Regions from separate parts of the Homo sapiens genome. Here region 2 is linked to region 1. The links come from fine-mapping of genetic effects on gene expression. Tissue or cell type: whole blood. Region 1 holds a variant in brackets; the other region holds the start of a gene. All regions are shown on one strand. Distances are between the middles of the regions. Region 1 overlaps WDR11 (WD repeat domain 11). Region 2 holds the start of WDR11 (WD repeat domain 11).

Region 1 (5,494 bases):
CAGCTACTGCTCTTGGGTCAAGTATGTCAGTTTTTATAACTCTACATGCTTCATTAAATTGCTAGTTAATTCGTATTTCAGAGCAATATATCTGTATGTATATATTTCATAATATTTTCCCCTTGTATGTACCTCCTTCCCTGTAGACAGTTTAGGCTTTCTTTCAAAATAATACCAATAAACCTCATGAGAAAAAACATATGGTTAACCAGCTTGTAATTTAGACTTCCATAATGCCCAGTGGAGCCCAGCTATTTGTTTTGTTTTGTTTTTGTGTCTGAATTGACTGGTACAAAGCTAAAATAGGCAATTACTCGAGCACCTAGATACACCAGCCTCTGGCTTTATGTTTGTCTCAAAAAAGTAGTGTAGCACCTCTGTTTAATGTTTGTATTTGTAAACAAAATATTCAATTGCATTTTTTGAAAATGAGTGTTTTCCTTTAGTTTTCTACCTTATGAATTTTAAAAAGTTATGTTGGAGGAAAATGTTCTCATAATTAGAAAAACCGTTTCTCTTACTAGACAGACAGAGCTGTGCAGTTGCTGTTGGAAACAAGTGCAGATAACCAGCATTATTACTGTGATTCACTGAAAGCCTGTTTAGTCACTACTGTCACCTCGTCAGGCCCCTCTCAGAGCACCATTAAGTTGGTGGCAACGAATATGATTGCCAATGGCAAATTGGCAGGTAAGGCACACTTGATATGTTTGTCATCTCTCTGAAAAATGAGACCTTGTTCCCAGCAAAGTATCTGATTAGTAGGGACATTTCTTTCTCTTTTACATATGCTGAAGAAAAATAGAAAAATTATTGCTACCTATAAATCAGATGAATATAATTGTCTAAACCAGAATTAATTGTTTACACTTTTCAGAGTGAAAGGGGGCACTGTTAATAATTGCTGAGATAATAGGCATAAATCCAACAATCCTAGGCAAATCAGAACAATAAAACCTGTGAGAGAACTATGCTCTCCCTACTTATTCTCCAGACTGTATTGTGCTTCCTACCCTGGTTACTTGAGTAATAACAGTAAAACTCTTAATATTATGTTTCAGAATTTAAATCAAGAATGTCTTCAGTAGGTATAAAATGGGCACGACTAGATAAGGTCAAATGGGGATTTAACTTTTTAATGACTTCTCAAAGAAGGAGCTGCAGTGTCACTTAAGGGGATGCGCTTTTGTCTTTCAGAGGGCGTTCAGTTGCTCTGCCTGATAGATAAGGCTGCAGACGCCTGCCGCTACCTGCAGACATACGGCGAGTGGAATCGGGCTGCATGGCTGGCAAAAGTAGGTGGTTCCAAGTTTCAATAGGTGCCCTCAACATTCGGGATAGAAAGCTCAGTCCTGAACTTTGGACTTATGACTTAGAAACATTTTTTGGCCTGCAAAGCTGCTTTGCAAATACTGTCTTGGAACCTTTATCCTTTTCCTATTCTTTATGAGTGTAAATTGCATTACTTATTTAAAAATGGATCTTGCATTGGTAGCAATTAAGTAAAAGCAGCTGCCTCCTCTTTCTCCCAGAGTCTGAGCCGAAACTACAGTCCAGAGGTATAGCCAGGCCCTGGGTCCCGTAGGCACAGACCGTTATCATTATTCAGAGTATGCAGCAGCTTCAGGGCAGTGTGCTAGTCAAGCAGAGCATAGCCTGTATTTCATAGAAACAGATCTCACTTTAACTGAATTATTATTTTTTCTTTATAGAGTGCAGGATGTTTTTGTTGTTAACACAGGCGTCTTTCTCAGGTCCGTTTGAATCCTGAGGAGTGTGCCGATGTTTTAAGGCGGTGGGTTGACCACCTTTGTTCTCCACAAGTCAATCAGAAATCAAAGGCTCTCCTGGTTCTCCTCTCTCTGGGCTGCTTTTTTAGCGTGGCAGAGACGCTTCACAGGTAAACCGAGAGTTCACATGGGCTGCTCAGGCCTGCCCGTGAGCAGTCACTTCATGTTCTCTCGCGGTTCTAGCAGGTCATGGTACTCGATGTGTAAAGTGAAAGGAGAAGTATACATTTCAGGTTTGTCAAAAAACCCAAAGGAGAATGGAACTGTCCGTATTCATTACATCTTCATTCGGTCTAGGAGCTATGCTAGTTTCCTACTAATATGCTGATCAGACTTAACAGGCACCTAGTAAAAGGGAATTTAAAAGTCTTCAGAGAATTGGGGTCCATTCAGCTTTGACTAGAGCAACTGAGAGGAGGC[C/T]CAGAGAGCAGGGGGAGAGGCGACAGAAGGCATGGTGAGGTGGAGACATCCCGTCTGAAAATCTGGAAGAGGAACAACCATCACTAATTGTGGAGCATTTCATTTATTCAAAACTAAGGGAGGTAGATTACGGAAATATGACAAAAGATTACTTGTCAACTCTGGACAGGGGTACATGGGCACTTGTCATATCTCTGTAGATTTTTGTGTATTTAAACTATTTCACAATTTTTTAAAGTATTAATTTTAAAAAGCTTGTGTTTGGAGATGTGAGTATTCTTCCCTCCTTTTTTCAACAAACTAGGGCTTAGAAAAGTGCTTGTATCTTAATGCAGTATGCAGGTTTCCAGGGAAAATGTGTAAATGTCTTTATACCCTTCGATGCTGCTGCCCACCAGTGATGTAAATCACAAAGCATAACTCTTGTTTTGTTCTGTTGAGCAGCATGAGATACTTTGATAGAGCAGCCTTATTTGTGGAAGCTTGCCTCAAGTATGGAGCATTTGAAGTCACTGAGGACACAGATATCCTTTGCAAGGTTGTTTGTAGTGACGAGGAAGAAAGTGACATGCATGGGTTTTGGAATTTCCCTTAGTTGTGCTGCCTGGACAGGAACTATATTATATTGTGAAAGATCCATGTTCTGATTTTCTGATTCACCAAAGCCAGGAAAGAGGGAGAAATTAGAGGACAAAGAATCAGATAAGAAGGTGGCTGCACCATGGGTGTCAGCTTTGACTAGGATGGAGGGAGGCAGGAAGGACTATAGAGGACAGGGCCCCCAAGTCTTGTCTGAACTTAAAAAGAAGATGAAGGAATGATTTGGGAAACAGGTAGAAGGACCTGGTACTTTGAAATAGTACTTTTTCAAGACCAGACATTCCATGGAATAAATTTTATATATTTATCTAGAAAAAATATACTGGAATAACTAAAAAAGTCTCACGATCACCTCTAGTGACAATATGATATGGGACAAAATACAGCACTTAAAGAGAGGTGTTGCTCAGGCCAGCCACTATAATCCACCCATCAGCCAGAACATTTTATTTCTTCTAAATGGCACTTGAGCAACATTGGTTTCTTTGAAAAGAATGAACTTGAGAATGCAACTCCCAGGACCAGAAAAGAATGAAACTGGGCCAGTGCTTGCATGGTCCTGCTGCTGCTCACTGCACTTTGCTTCAAATTCTTACATTTGCTCTCATTTCTACATGGCAGGTACTTGGTTCTCTCTCTCTTTCTCCCTCTTTCTCTGTGTGTGTTTATAATTTTTTTTTTTTTTTAACAGAGAATTAAAACTAAACTAAAAATTTTTTTTTTCCTTTTTTTGAGGTAAGGTCTCACTCTTCTGCCCAGACTGGAGTGAGTGGCACGATCATGGCTCACTACAGCCTTGACTTCCTGGGCTCAAGCAGTCCTCCCACCTCATCCTCCCCAGTAGCTGGGACCATAGGTCCACACCATTGTGCCTGGCTTTTTTTTTTTTTTGGTAGTAACCCGGGTCTCACTATGTTGCCCAGGCTGGTCTTGAACTCCTAGTTCAAGCAGTCCTCTCACCTTGGCCTCCCAAAGTGCTGAGATTACAGGCATGAGCCACCCAGCCCTGCACTGAAAGTTTTTTAAAATTAAACTGAAGGCTGAGCCTACTCAAGATCATGTACCTAGTCACTGGGAAGGTGACTGGTTCAGTGTATGCATTTTGAGGATCAAAGCATCAGCACAGAGTACCCAATAGGCTGTTTAAAAAAATAAAAATAAATAAAAAAAAACCAATAGGACAGGGCTTTCTAAAAACCCAACAACCAGATATAGGGAACATTCAGAAATAAATATCTGCCCCCAAACTGCCAGCCTCTCAGACTTTCAAATGGAATGAGGATATGCAGGTTAAGTTTCTCCTCTCTTATCATTCATCTTCCAATCTTCAGTTGAGTGTAGGTTATGGGAGGATGTTGGTTGGGTCTTCTGGAAGGAGAAGCTTTGGACTCAGCTGGTACGAAAGGTAATGATGGTACAGACTGAGACATGGCCTACTATGGCCGGGAATCACCCTCTGCCCGCGAAAAGTCTCCTGTGTTCATCCTGTGCTGCCCGCTGTGGACACCAGGTCCCTTCCGAGCAGCCAGCAGAGCAGACGCGACTCACCCTTCCTGCTTCTGGGAGCCTGTGAAGAGTCTCATCACAGCCCTTTTTACTCTTCTTTTCCTTAACTATGGTTTACAGAAACTCATCACTGCTATATATGCAGATTATGCCCGGAGTTTGAAGAACCTCGGTTTTAAGCAGGGAGCAGTTCTCTTTGCTTCAAAAGCCGGAGCAGCTGGCAAAGACTTATTGAATGAGCTTGAGTCCCCCAAGGAAGAACCCATTGAAGAGTGACAGCTTAATAAATGCCAGGGAATCTGACCTGGAAGGCAGATGGGAGGGGGCTGGTCTGGCTGTGGCCACCGTCACAGTCCAGGATGAAGAGGAGTACAGGGTCCTGTGAGCTGTTTGACCACTGTTCTAAGACTATGTGTGCCCAAAAGCACATAAGCATCTATGTTGAGAGTAAGTTTGTATCCTGCGTTGGTCTCAGAAAGAACGTGAATGCTTAAGATTTTGAAAGTACATAATATTTTATACTTTGGGAGAGAGCTTTAAGAGTCCCTGGAAATACTTTTTAATTTTTTTAACTTAAAATTCAAGAGACTGAATCACTTTTCTCATTGATTAAATGTAAAGATTATTGAGAAACCTATAGTAAATGAAATTTGTGAGATGTTTTCTCAAATATATGCTGTGCCTGTACTTATATACAGTCTTTCAAGAGAGATACAAACAAGGCAGAAACATTTAAACTAGTATTAAAGGTAGTTTACCAAAGCATTTTTTGTTTTCTTACCTTGAAAACACAGAACCGTTAATTCCTTGGTTTAAGCAGTTGCTAAGTTTTGTAATTTTAGGCTCAGAGGACCATAGGAGGTTTTAAGATTTATGTTTAGTCCGATAGGTGAGGTCTTTGATATTTTGAATTTTAACTCCTTTTATGATACATCACAGTAACCTCATTTTTGAAGTCTTTCTTTGTACTTTAATGTTCTCTCTGTTCTAATAGTTGAAGTATGAGATGTAACTATTATAAACTGTTGCTGAAAACATAAATGTCTGTAACTTACAAACATGATAAATAAATTAAAAATTCCATCCAGGCCTTTGTGTTCTCTGCATTGCTGTGCATGAGGCCAGGTCATGAGGTGGCTCCTTAGGAGTCATCTGGTCGCCCAGCCTCTAAAGCCTGG
Region 2 (5,264 bases), 55 kb before region 1:
AGCGTCTGAGAAGGCCACCACAGTCATTTCTTTCCTTCTGTCAGACATAATTCCTCAGTTTAGCCTTCCACCTCTATACAGTCTGATAACAGACCAGCCTTTATTAGTCAAATCAGCCAAGCAGTTTTTCAGGCTCTTAGTAGGTGTCAGTGAAACCTTTATATCCCTTACAGGCCTCCGTCTTCAAGAAAAGTAGAACGGACTAAAGGTCTTTTAAAAAGACAGCTCACCAAGCTCAGCCACCAACTTAAAAAGGACTGGACAATACTTTTACCACTTTCGCTTCTCAGAATTCAGGCCTGTCCTCAGAATGCTACAAGGTACATCCCATTTAAGCTCCTGTATAGACGCTCCTTTTTATTAGGCCCCAGTCTCATTTGACACCAGACCAACTTAGACTGTGCCCCAAAAAACTTGTCATCCCTATCTTTTGTAGTCATACTCCTATTCACCATTCTCAACTACTCATACATGCCCTGCTCTTGTTTACACTGCCGGTTTACACTGTTTCTCCAAGCCATCACAGCTGATATCTCCTGGTGCTATCCCCAAACTGCCACTCTAAACTCTTGAAGTAAATAAATAATCTTTGCTGGCAGGACTATGCTGAATCTCCTTAGGCACTCTCTAATCAGATGTCCTATGTCCTCCCAATTCTTAGACCTTTTATACCTGTTTTTCTCCTTCTCTTATTCCATTTAGTTTCTCAATTCATCCAAAACCGTATCCAGGCCGTCACCAATCATTCTATACGACAAATGTTTCTTCTTACATCCCCACAATATCACCCCTTACCACAAGACCTCCCTTCAGCTTAATCTCTCCCACTGTAGGTTCCCACGCCACCCCTAATCCCACTTGAAGCAGCCCTGAGAAACATCACCCATTCTCTCTCCATACCACCCCCCAAAAATTTTCGCCGCCTCAACACTTCAACACTATTTTGTTTTGTCTTATTAATATAAGAAGGCAGGAATGTCACGCCTCTGAGCCCAGGCCAGGCCATCGCATCCCGTGACTTGCATGTATACATCCAGATGGCCTAAAGTAACTGAAGATCCACAAAAGAAGTACAAACAGCCTTAACTGATGACATTCAACCACTGTGATTTGTTCCTGCCCCACCCTAACTGATCAATGTACTTTGTAATCTCCCCCACCCTTAAGAAGGTTCTTTGTAATTCTCCCCACCCTTGAGAATGTACTTTGTGAGATCCACCCCTGCCCACCAGAGAACAACCCCCTTTGACTAATTTTCCATTACCTTCCCAAATCCTATAAAACAGCCCCACCCCTATCTCCCTTCGCTGACTCTTTTCGGACTTAGCCCACCTGCACCCATGTGAAATAAACAGCTTTATTGCTCACATAAAGCCTGTTTGGTGGTCTCTTCACACGGACGCGCATGAAACTAACAATGTATTGGGGAGAGAAACACACATCTGCAAATATCATTGCTGAAAAGAAATCATTGCATTAAGTGCTATAGTTAAAGCGTATAAACCCAACACTGAACACAAAGGAGGGAAGGACTGGGTCTGACCTGGAGAGCAGCAGAGGAGAAAGTGCGAAATGAAAGGTACCCAGCAACAGACAAAGGGTCACACTTGGCCCCAGACATAGTGCTTCTTCCTCAAGTGCGAAGGGAGTATTGCAAACACCAGATATGCAGTGTTATCTGTATTTGGAAATTGTTTATATTCAGGCCATTCACTTCATTCAGTCTGGCAATTTCATTCAATTAATCTCATTCATTTCTTAATTAATCTCATTCATTATTCTCTGTAAACTCCACGAGAGCGGAGACTTTGTGTCTTCTTCATCGGTAGATCCCCCATGCCTACTGGCACTAGTAGTTGCCCTAAATTCACTTATCAAAGGCAGCAAGAATAACTGGGACTCTTCTCTCTTGCTTTTCACGATTTCCAGCAGGGCACAAAGGCCTACAGTCCCCACCTGAAAAAAACAGACTTGACTGGAGGCAGCGCCTCTTCTTCCAAATACAGCCCCAGCTGACGCAGATTAGCACAACCGCCTAAGCGGCGGAACTCTGGAGAGTGCGGAACCTAGGATCCTAGGAAACTGAAGGCAACGGAACCTGGGGGCGATGGAATCCGGGAGCGGTGGAACCCGGAGCCTGTAGAACTTGAATCTAGAGGAACCTGACAGCGGCGCCGAGGGGGCCACCCGGACTCTGTTTGGAACGGAAGCACAGTGTCCGCCGCTTCCTGGTTGCGGGTCAGCGCCCAGGTCCTGGGCTGGCCGCCGGGATGTTGCCCTACACAGTGAACTTCAAGGTGTCGGCGCGCACCCTCACGGGGGCCCTCAACGCCCACAACAAGGCGGCGGTGGACTGGTGAGGACGCCGAGCTTCCAGGTCGCCAGGATCGGCCAGGAATGTGTGAGGGGGAAGGGGGAAGGACAAGAGGTTTCACCCCCTGGTTAGTTTGGCCTCGCTAAGGCAGGGAGCCGCCCTCACGCAATGAGCTTGCTTTCAGTTGGTGGATTTTTGTTGTTACAAAAGTGATAATAGCCCCGTGTGGGAAATTCCCCCATGCAAATACATTTCCCCTCTTTCTCGCGTATTTCTCTGCTGTTTTCTCTGCACCTCGCCCTTTTGCCGTTCCATTCCTCTCTCTTTTCCTCTCCTCCAGCTTCCAGGCTTCTCTCTCTCCACCATTAATTCCCTGTGCACTTTCTCTTTCCCATCCTGTCTTTTCTTTTTCGTTGTCTTGTATTCCTGTTGTCTTTCAACAATGTGCCAGACCCTGTGCTAGGCGCCTGTTCTTTCACCTGTCCTTTTCACCTCTTTTCGGGCTCCTCCTGTGTAGAACATTCCTGCCTTCAACAGGTCGTCTTTATTACTCTCTCCTTTCACTATAAATTACTACTGCAGCTCTGAAAACTACTCATTAGACAAATGTAAAGCAAAATTCTGTGGCTGTGGGATGTTGTTAGGAGGACTGAAACGTCTTGTGCAGTGTTTGTCGTTTTATTTAGTTGGAAGGACTAGGATTAGTCGCAGTATCCCCAGGCACATTGTGGATACTAAGGATTAGAAATCGGATAAGCGAAAGACGTATGCCTACAAGAACAGTCAGAGGGCACAAGTTCCTTTTTATGTCCTCGGGTCTCTATTTTCATATCTTTTAGAACTTTTTTTATCCGAATGAAAAGTGAATTTCAACAAGCATTTTAAGCTTAGCCAGATCTTTTATTTAAGTGGGATAATGATAAATACTGGCCTTTGGGTTTAAATGATTTTATTAATGGTGGTACATATGAATTAGACTTATCATTTATTTAGGCTTGGCAAGAAAGAAGTCGTCCTGCTTTGTTCTGTACTTAAACTTTAACATTACTGTTTTGCTAGGGGCTGGCAAGGTTTAATTGCTTATGGATGTCATTCACTTGTGGTAGTGATTGATTCCATTACTGCCCAAACTCTTCAAGTTTTAGAAAAGCATAAAGCTGATGTTGTAAAGGTAAGTAAAATCCCACTTTGACGCTAACATGTTGTCTAGTCTAAAGTTTAATACTGTGTATCACTAAGCTCTCATTAAGTCTTACGTGTAAGTGTTGAATAGCTTTTAAATATAACAACCTATTTGGGGTAGCCTAGAATTTTCATATATATGACTTAATGTCAATACAGGGTGAGTTATTAAATGCTAGTTGTTAGATCATTTTAAGGCAGATGAAAGTTCTACCATTTACAAGACCACTCAGTCATTCCTTAGTTTTGAGCACTTACCATATGCTATGGATATGGAGATGAAAGCCCTCAGATAATTCTCCATCTTATAAGGAAGACTCACAGCGTGATAGTGTGATAAGTGAGACTTGCGTAACACGCTGTGAGAAAACAGAGGAGCTGCATATTGCCTGGTTGTGAGGAGAGTCACAGAAGTCTACAGTTTCAAGACTAGTAGACAGTAGTTAGCCAAGTAAAAAATTGACAAGGAGCATTGCAGGGAAAAGCAAGAATATACACAGAAGTAAGTAGCGTGCCATAAAGATGGCTAAAGATGGGACACTTGTAGGAGTGATGAAATAAGAGGCAGCCAGAGAGATTCAGCTGTCTGTCCTGAAGTTTTGTAAGATTACGAAGGAGTTTGGATTTTTTTTTTTTTTAGACAGAATCTCACTCTGTCGCCCAGGCTGGAGTGCAGTGGCATGATCTCGGCTCACTGTAAGCTCCACATCCTGGGTTCACGCCATTCTCCTGCCTCAGCCTCCTGAGTAGCTGGGACTACAGGCACCCACCACCATGCCCAGCTAATTTTTTGTATTTTTAGTAGAGACCGGGTTTCACCATGTTAGCCAGGATGGTCTCGAGCTCCTGACCTCGTGATCCACCCGCCTTGGCCTCCCAAAGTGCTGGGATTACAGGTGTGAGTCACCGCGCCCAGCAGGAATTTGGATTTTTGAGTAGGAGATTGATGTGACCATATTCGCGTCTTAGAAAAACTCTGGCAGCAGTGGAGGATCTGCTGAAGAAATGCAAGACTGGAGGCAGTAAGATCATTTAGGAGATTTCTGCAGTAATTTTGGTGGGAAATTCTAAGGGCCTAAAATAAAGCTGGGGCATGGAGAAGTCATGTTTAAGAGCAGCAAAGAGGTAAACCTGATAGCCTTTATAGTGATCAGTATAAAGGAGAGTAAGAGAATAGAGTGACTCCAAGGTTTCTTTTGGTGTAATTGAATGACAGTGTTTCCAGTTATCAGAGGTAAGCATCTGTGAAGTCAGTGAATTTTTAAGTTTTCAACATGCAAAATCTGAGATGCCTGTAATATATTGCATTATAGTGATCCGGGCTTTAGGAGATAGGTCAGGATTAGAGATAGAGATTTGGAGTCTTTTTCTTTTTTAAATAATAGCTTTATTGAGATACTCATACCATAAAATGTACTGACTTAAAATGCACAATTCTGTGGCTTTTAGTATATCCACAGTTAATGCAGCCACAATTACAATGAACTTTTTTACCTCAAAAAGAAACCCTATATCCACTAGCAGTCATATTCCATTTCCCCCATTTCCCTCATCCTTTGGCAACCACTGACCTACTTTCTGTGTCTGTAGACTGGCCCATTCTGGGGATTTTATATAAATTGAATCATATAATTTGTGGTCTTTTGTGCATGACTTCTTTCACTTAGGATAATGTTTTCATGGTTCATCTGCGTTGTAGCATATATCAATACTCTGTTACTGATGAATAATATTCCACTGTAAGGATGTATCACATTTATTTTATTGA

The links. PIP is the estimated chance that this variant, and not a neighbour inherited with it, causes the effect.
Region 2: WDR11 starts here. The variant in region 1 is fine-mapped to the expression of WDR11 in whole blood (INTERVAL, PIP above 0.99).

What each region holds. Positions count from the first base shown.
Region 1 is chr10:120,904,122-120,909,615 of GRCh38, forward strand. It overlaps WDR11 (WD repeat domain 11), which reads left to right. Exons shown (of 29, transcript NM_018117.12): 24 at 1-21; 25 at 525-690; 26 at 1,198-1,295; 27 at 1,755-1,900; 28 at 2,655-2,734; 29 at 4,435-5,403. The coding sequence ends at 4,592. The region is part of intron 2 of LOC105378519 (a long non-coding RNA gene); the gene reads right to left. Among named protein-coding and RNA genes, the nearest start is that of WDR11, 56 kb to the left of the region's middle. The variant C/T (reference allele first, on the strand shown) is at 2,211.
Region 2 is chr10:120,849,151-120,854,414 of GRCh38, forward strand. It overlaps WDR11 (WD repeat domain 11), which reads left to right and starts at 2,212. Exons shown (of 29, transcript NM_018117.12): 1 at 2,212-2,356; 2 at 3,374-3,485. The coding sequence starts at 2,271. It overlaps WDR11-DT (WDR11 divergent transcript), which reads right to left and starts at 2,029. Exons shown (of 3, transcript NR_033850.1): 1 at 1,544-2,029. RefSeq lists enhancers at 1,854-2,398, 1,877-1,996, 2,157-2,626, 2,399-2,942, 2,637-2,696.